Homo sapiens: one gene and its partner. The protein of the gene in region 1 interacts with the protein of each later gene in a pairwise test. Each region holds a gene or a part of one and is shown in the gene's direction. Other genes may lie near its edges.

Evidence for each region. The genes of interacting proteins can lie anywhere in the genome.
Region 2: the proteins of TBL1X (region 1) and DLX3 interact in a two-hybrid assay, tested with the Homo sapiens proteins (one large-scale study listed by BioGRID and IntAct).

The regions. Positions count from the first base shown.
Region 1 is NC_000023.11:9,470,591-9,476,458, forward strand, and holds part of TBL1X (F-box-like/WD repeat-containing protein TBL1X), read left to right. Parts: intron 1-5,868. UniProt on the Homo sapiens protein: F-box-like protein involved in the recruitment of the ubiquitin/19S proteasome complex to nuclear receptor-regulated transcription units. Plays an essential role in transcription activation mediated by nuclear receptors.
Region 2 is NC_000017.11:49,989,505-49,992,224, reverse strand, and holds the end of DLX3 (homeobox protein DLX-3), read left to right. Parts: intron 1-360; coding exon 361-708; 3' UTR 709-2,220; downstream 2,221-2,720. UniProt on the Homo sapiens protein: Transcriptional activator. Activates transcription of GNRHR, via binding to the downstream activin regulatory element (DARE) in the gene promoter.

The DNA.
Region 1 (5,868 bases):
TGATGCCTCATTGTTTCAGATGGGACATTTTCTAATGTCGTGTTTTTGTTTTTGTTTTTTTGAGACAGAATTTCATTGGTGTTTCCCAGGTTGGAGTGCAGTGGCATGATCTCTCCTCACTGCAACCTCCGCTTCCCGGGATCAAGCAATTCTCCTGCCTCAGCCTCCCGAGTAGCTGGGATTACAGGCATGCACCACCATGCCCGGCTAATTTTGTATTTTTAGTAGAGATGGCATTTCACCATGTTGGTCAGGCTGGTCTCGAACTCCTGACTTCAGATGATCCACTCGCCTCGGCCTCCCAAACTACTGGAATTACAGGTGTGAGCAACCATGCCCGACCTCTGATGTCCTTTTAGAGGATGTTACCCTCACCTTTATTGCACAGTCCTACCAAAAGGTACTTCATATGTGAAATGTATCAGAAGGTTATAGTCATGGCTTTAGTTTAAAAACAGGATACATGTTCATTAAGGACCTTTGCCGTTTTCCCAATGGGTTAATCACGTAAATATAAAATAGGCTAAAAATATCAAGTTGTTTTTGCCTTTGTTGTAGAAATAAAAAAATGAATTCCTACATCTGTGTTTCTATGGAGCTGCTAACCTGTGTTTTACTCTGGGCCATATGTCGCTTTCTGTGATCTCATGACGTGGCATGTTTTCTAATATAATCCTTGTCCTGGCATTTTGGTGACTTTTGTCCTGCCTGAGGTGGTCTACCTGGTTGTGTGAAGTCACAGAACCTGTGCATGTCCTACCGTGTAGAGTTAAAGGGCTGGATGAGTGGCCTCAAGCCTTTTCCTCCCTCCCAGGTGTGAAGATTTGGTTTGGAAGATGGACCCTGCTTCAAGGTCTGGGAGGCCATGTTTTTTTCAGACTGGTTAAGGATGACGGTTTTATGTTAACTAAACATTGGGATCAAGTGACAGTTGTTTATGTCCGGTGCCTAGAGTATCAGTTTTCCCATGATTAAAATAAGCGATATTTTGGTAAACATTGATAAGTTAGTTGCGCATTTTAGTTCAGAAACCCACAGCGAGTCAGAAGGCGCTTTGTGCTGCTGGGCGCCTCTGAGTGATTCCGGGGAGTGCGGCAGTTCTCCAGCCCCAGGAGACCCTGTGAAAGAAGCACAAACAATGCTCACGGCAAAACTCACAGTGTTTATTCTTGACCTGGGTGTCTGCCTTGAATTCTTGTCATTTTTCCTATCGTGGTGGATGTAGCCGGAATGCTTTAAAGAAAACATGAGAGTTTTTTCTGCCTGTTTCCCTTGAGCCTGGAACCGATTATGACCCCAGATAGCCTGCACAGGGCTCTTTCCTTTCTGGAACACCTGCCCAGGCTAGAATATGGGAGTAGGGAGGAGGTGAGGCTCTCTCCTGCCCGGTAACCTTCCCGGCCAGCTCTCCAAGACGCTGAAACCTTCCTTCGGGTCTGTTGAAACTGCATCCCCAGCACCATCATGTCGGAGCAAGAAGAGAAGGGCATGTGTCCCCTTTAGGCTTGACTCTTTCCAATTAGGGACCTGCCTGTTGTTAGGATTTAGAGTCCATGTGAATGTGCAGTATTGTTCAGTGCTGCGAGCATTTTTGCTTGTCTGAATTTCCTGATAGAAGGGAATTTGGACAAAAAGAAGCTTATTGTACATGGTGCCATTTTATTCCTTAAATCAATAATAACAAATACTTTATTTATGTATTTTTAGAGATGGGGTCTTGCTCTGTTGCCCTGATCATAGCTCACTGCAGCCTTGGCTTTCTGGGCTCAAGTGATCCTTCTGCCTCAGCCTCCCAAGTAGCTGGGCCGACAGGCACAAGTCAGCATGTCCAGCTTTTTTTTTTTCTTTCTTTTTTTTTTTTTTTTTAATTTTCAATTTTTTTCTAGAGATTGGGTCTTGCTGTGTTGCCTAGGCTGGTCTTGAGCACCTGGACTCAAGCAATCTTCCTGCATCGGCCTCCCAAAGTGCTGCGATTACAGTTGTGAGCTACTGTTCCTGGCCAACATATACTTTAATATGGCAAGACCATATAAAATAATTTTAAGAGGCCAGGTGTGGTGGCTCATGCCCCCCAGCACTTTGGGAGGCTGAGGGGGGCAGATCACGAGGTCAGGAGATCGAGACCATTCTAGCTAACACGGTGAAACCCCGTCTCTACTAAAAATACAAAAAATTAGCCAGGCATGGTGGTGGGCGCCTATAGTCCCAGCTCCTTGGGAGGCTGAGACAGGAGAATGGCGTGAACCATGGAGGTGGAGCTTGCAGTGAGCCAAGATTGCGCCACTGCACTCCAGCCTGGGTGACAGAGCAAGACTCCGTCTCAAAAAAAAAAACAATAATTTTAAGAACTGGAGGAAAATTCAGCAGGACTGAGTCGTGATTTCAGTTTCTGGTGCACTGTGGGTAATTGGGTAATTGTCAGCCTGGATGCTTGTGCTCCTTTAGTTGTCACTGTTACCTTGTCATCTATGTGAAGATGAGAAATGAAGTTGAGTGGAGAACTGTCGCCAAAGTCTGCCATGTAAAAATCGGTAGTGCCAATGTGCAAAGGTAATTCCCAGGTGCTATAAAAGTCCAGGTGGCTTCACAGTTTCAGATTGTATTTCCCGAAAGCGTAGAGAATTGATATCCCTGAATAGGAAATTGACGTCCCTGCCATTTGGTTCATTTGGGGAACAGAATAAACTTGTGTCCTTGCCTTCAGTTCTTTTTTCAACAGAATCTTATCAAGCATTTGAATCGTACACAACTGTAATGCCAGCTCCATGTTGATAAAAACTCAAGAATTCAAAATTATAAACTTGAAAACAGCAATTGCCAACTTCTGACAGTAGCAGGAGAGTCTGGAGGACCTGTTCAGAGGAAGTCGGGTACTGTTTCCTTTTCTTGTCTAGGTTTGTTCTTGTCCGATGGGATCAGAGAGATTGAGATGGGGCATGATAGGCGGTGGGTTCAGGAGAAAGGGAAGCTTTAGAAATGAAGGTAGAAAAGATGCTTTCTTATTGGAACAGTGTTTTCAACGTTGAGCTCTGGAATGTTGCAGCCAACTAATGGTTCTCATTTGGGACAGTTCTGTCCCCCACCTTTGAAGGGGGTTTGGTTTAATTCCCAATTTGATTATGAAGAAAATACCAGATTCAGCTTGCATTTTCAAGACACAGTGGTTCTATGTCAACTTCAGCCATTTCCAGGGATCTGTCTTAGGATACTTCAAAAAGCCTAACCTTTGAGATGCACTCAGCTCATAAGTTCGTGAAAATAAGAATGAATAATCTTCCCTGTCCAGTACATGACAGAAATTATTGTAGACCAGATGAGAGCAAGGAGAGATACTTGTTGATATTACATGTCACGGGATGCTCTGTTAAATTTTATGGGACTCTGAGTGTAATTCCTTTAAGCCAGTAGTCTCTAAATTTGGGGGAAGGACAGGGGACAGAAATGACTTGTTTCAGATTTTAATTCCCAAAAGGGTCTTAGTGAGTTTCATGCCCTCTGGCAGGTGCACAGCAAGATTTATTGGGATGCAGGAAGAAATTATGAAAATGTCCATTAAGAAAATCTCTAATACTTGTAAAAAATATATTTCTTGTCCATGAAATGCATGTTACTTGAGTATTTTATATATTTAATAAATTACATGAGTTAGGAGCACCTTCTGAAAACTTTTTTGCTGAAAAGGATATATGATGAAAGAAACATTTATGATGTAGGTCCCCAAAGGCTGGAAGAGGGGGTGATACCAACGTCCCTGCCTGCAGGTAGGACACAGTTGTACTCCCCTTTCCTCTGACTTCAGCTACTAAGGTATGTGTGCGTTTGCACGCACATGTATGTGCGTTAAGTAACTTTGAGATCCACCAGCTTAAGGACTGGACATCGTTCCAGAGGTACAGGTATTAGTGATTTGACTTAGGGAAGAAAGAATATGCAATAACAGGGAACCATGCACATACTGGATCTATTGTATTTTGCGTGTTGTTTTTAAAGCTGAAAAAATGCGCTTGTTTCGGAACTAGATGACAGTACCTGTTTGCAGGTCCACAAGGAAACCTTGGAACAATGCTATGCTTTTTAAGCGTTTTATGACTGCATTGTTTTCATAATCACTGAATTCTGTTTATAAATCAGCTGATTTCATTGACGGATGCCCTCAGGGCTCTGGAGAATTAGGCGTTTTGCTGCAGAAATGGTTCAGAATTTCAAAGACATCAACGTGAGATTGTACTGGAATTGAGTTGTGATAAAAGTCCTAGGGTGCTTTAAATCTTTAAATCTGGTTATTTGTTTGTTTGTTTTTTGAGGCAGAGTCTCACTCTGTCGCCTAGGCTAGAGTGTAGTGGCGTGATCTCAGCTCACTGCAACCTCCGCCTCCTGGGTTCAAGCAATTCTCCTGCCTCAGCCTCCCGAGTTGCTGGGATTACAGGCGCCTGCCACTGCACCCGGCTAATTTTTGTATTTTTAGTAGAGACGGGGTTTTGCCATGTTGGCCAGGCTGGTCTCGAACTCCTGACCTCAGGTGATCCGCCCACCTTGGTCTCCCAAAGTGGTGGGATTACCGGCGTGAGCCACTGTGACCTGCTGTTTTTGTTTTTGAGACATATTTCATCTATCATGGTTATTAAGTGTTTTGTTTTTTTGCATTTCTCATTGGTGTTTTTTGTTTGTTTGTTTGTTTTTTTGAGATGGAGTCTGGCTCTGTCGCCCAGGCTGGAGTGCTCAGCTCACTGCAACGTCTGCCTCCCAAGTTTAAGCAATTCTCCTGCCTCAGCATCCCGAGTAGCTGGGATTACAGGTGCCCACCACCACCACGCCTGGCTAATTGTTTTATTTTTAGTAGAGATGTGGTTTCACCATGTTGGCCAGGCTGGTTTCGAACTCCTGACCTCAAGTGATCTGCCTGCCTCGGCCTCCCAAAGTGCTGGAATTACAGGCGTGAACCACCACGCCTGGCCTCATTAGGTTTTTTTTTTTTTTCTGAGTTGCTGCTACACTACTGGTGTTACAGAGTGAATAAACATAAAAATTATATTCACAACTCAGACCACATTGTGGGCTGTGGAGGTGAGAAATAGGAATCATCTCTAAATTTAAGGTCTTCTGGCTGAGCTCATTTGCTTAGAATGGCTGAAGGTTTGGTTTTCATGAGATGAAATGCCAACCTCAAGTGGTTCTGGGTTTCCAGACCAGTTTTTAGTTTGTTTAACTTGAGAGAATTGATATGTCAGCTTTAGTTTTTGTGTGTAATTTTTGGTGTTTGCATCTGTTTTCTTCTTTGTGAATATTGAATTCGCAACATAACTTTGTTATATGAAATGATGCTCATACACTTGCGCAGTGCATTAGAAAGCCTGCCAGGAGCAGTACTTGTAGATTTCCGTGTACCAGCAGGATGCCTAATGCCGACCATGATTAATGCTCATCAGAATCTATGTAGACCTCCATTTGTCCTTTGATAAGCTGAAATATTTGTGTCTACTTTTTAAAAAACCTGTTGCTTCTCTTTATGGTAATACTCAGAAGGCACTCACTGTGAAGAGAGGAGAAACAGGAAGTAGAATTTTTTACTATCTAGATTGATGCACCTATCTCCCCTCTCCAGAGACCAATGCATTTAGGCCCCAGTAAGAAATTTAGTTGTAATGAACCATAAAGCAGATGCAGAGTATATTTGGGAATATACCTTATCTGACTCCACAGCCCAACCCCTTTAAGAGGAAAGAGATGGCACAATATATTTTGCTTTAAGCCTTAGACTGGTCTTGACTTCATATTGGAACCACTGAATTGCTTCAGCTGTGAACTGGAATCCTCTCCTGTCTTTGTTGTTGAGTGATGACACTCTTAATTAATCATTTGCTTATTTGC
Region 2 (2,720 bases), on another chromosome or scaffold:
CTTTAAGTTTTTTATATGTCGTACCTTATTTGAGCCTCAGAATGACCCTATGAGGCAGGTAATAGTGCTGTTCTCATCCCCATTTTGCAGACAAGAGGAAGTCAAGAACAAGAGAGGTTAAACAACTTGCCCAAGGTCACGCTTAGTAAGTGACAGAGCAGAATTTGGACCCAGGCAGCTGAACGTTCCTAGCCACAATTCTATCCCAGATCCAAGAAACTGGGAGTCAGGAGGCCTGTTTTTTGCCTGATTCTTATGTGAAATTGGGTTCTGGCCTTTCTTTTTCTTGGCTAGGTTCTTCCCAGGGTTGTTTTAGCATTCTGAGAGGCTAACTAGCTACCCCTTTCTTCTCTGGCCCAGGTGAAAATCTGGTTCCAGAACCGCCGTTCCAAGTTCAAGAAACTCTACAAGAACGGGGAGGTGCCGCTGGAGCACAGTCCCAATAACAGTGATTCCATGGCCTGCAACTCACCACCATCACCCGCCCTCTGGGACACCTCTTCCCACTCCACTCCGGCCCCTGCCCGCAGTCAGCTGCCCCCGCCGCTCCCATACAGTGCCTCCCCCAGCTACCTGGACGACCCCACCAACTCCTGGTATCACGCACAGAACCTGAGTGGACCCCACTTACAGCAGCAGCCGCCTCAGCCAGCCACCCTGCACCATGCCTCTCCCGGGCCCCCGCCCAACCCTGGGGCTGTGTACTGAGCACCCATCTGGCCTGCACCCTTGACAAAGGACCCCAGGACCAGGCAGAAGGCGCCTCCGTCCTAGCCACTCAGGAATCATCGAGGAGCACAGGGAAAAGGAACTCCCTTTCCCCCTCCCTTGCCCCTTCCTCCAGGGACCCAAGCGCTTCCAGATGACAATTGCATGGACCAAGGATGCCCCCTGAACCTCCCTCCCTCTGCCTAGACACTGGGGTACCCCTCCAGATGTGGGGACATTCCACCCCAGTGGGGACAGCCATTCCCCTACCTGCTCCAGGAGCCTGGATTGGCTTTAAATGGCTCATCATCTTCCAGCTTCTTAAACTTAGTGCCTGTTCCCAGACTGGAGACCTTGGGATGGGGGAGAGTGTGGAGGGTTTGCGGGTCCTGCCTGTGCTGGGGCACCTGGCACCGTGGATCTTAAAACTTGCCAGGCCTAGTTCCTCCTGAGCCTCTGGTGGTCTCCCCCTGCTCGAGCGGCCCCTCGGCCAATAAGACAGTGGACATCATGACGAGGACTCCGGGTGGGGACCTGAACTGGTCACCGCCCTGCACTTCTAGCCCTCATTTAAGATTTGAGGGTGAAACCAAAGAAAACCCCCTAAGTGAGGGAATCTTTTAATATTTGTGGCTTTAGAGGAAAGAACTAAAGGAGCCATCTCTCTCCCCTCTCCTCCGTTCCGAGAGGAGGGGTGGGTCTCAGACGTTTTTCCTATGGACTTATTTCTTCCATGTCCAGGACTTTGCACAACTTTGGTTTTAAAAGCTGTTGAAAAATAGGAAAACAAAGGGCATTGTTCACAGATAGGGCCAAGTCTCCCCTTGCAAGGGTGCCTCTGTTCTGTCCCTGCCCCCACCTCACCTTCTCTACTCCTCCAGTAAGTTGGCAGTTTTGGTGCCAAACCCCAAATCTCCAAAGAGACATACCAGGCAAGACAAACCCCCAAACACCTCCTTTCCGGTGGCCTTGGAAACAGATTGCTCCGAGCTGGAGAATGTCGGGTGAGGTGTATGGGAGAGGAGGGGAGAGTTAGAACTTGTGCCTTTGGGAGTAAGGGGTAACTGCCTGGAGGGCTGGTGGCACTGCCCCTCCCTGACCCAGACATCCCACCAAAGCTAACTTTCCCCCACCCCTGATGCAGTAAAACATTGAAAAAAAAAAAAAAGGAGAGGTAGAAGACTGTAGCTATATATATAAATATATAGTAAGTTTTTTTTTTTTAAGAGCAACAGAGAGAAGCAGCCTCCTCCCTGCTGCGGTTTCCTATTTATGTGGCCATGTTCCTCCTGGACGGATCTCCCTGTGTGTTTCAAGCTGAGAGATGTGGGCTCCGGCTGGATTTGGGTTTTGTGGGAGGTGCAGGGGCCAAGAGAGACGTGGTAGGTCTCCAAGAGTCCCACCCGGGGGGGAAGAAGCAAAGCCATCTCCCACCCCCTCCCAGCCTTCTCATTTCTGCTTTCTTACTGGACTCATCTTTATATATAATGTTAATAAAAAAGACGAAAATAACCACTGAGCTCTTTGAACTGGAGGCTGGTGGCAGCTCTTGTGGGGAGGGTCTGAGAGTTGGGGAAGGTGTCCAGTGAGGAGGCACTTCTGCGCTCTGAGGGAGACGGGGCCCCTAGGAAACCACTACTAAGGTGCTGGGCTGGGCCTGGCCCCTGGTGGCAGGTGCTCCTGAAACCATGGCTGTCCCCAATCTGGGCAGGTCTTTGGGGGAGGCTCCCAGCAGCAGCTTCCCTGACTCCACTGCTTGGCAGCTTGGTGCTCAGAATCAGACAGCTCCCTCTGCACCGCCGCCGGGTCACCTCAGGGCTGGTCTTTGATCTGGAGCTCACATGCAGACATGCTTGCACATGTGTGTAACCCCCTGCCTCCATGCCCAGGCACTCCTGGCCCCTCACCCTCCTGTCTGTCCCTTTCAGCTTGGGGTGAGGGTGGGGCCTCAGTCAGGGGGACACGACTGCTCCCTCAGTGGGGAGGGACCTAGCACTGTGATCCAGGCCTGG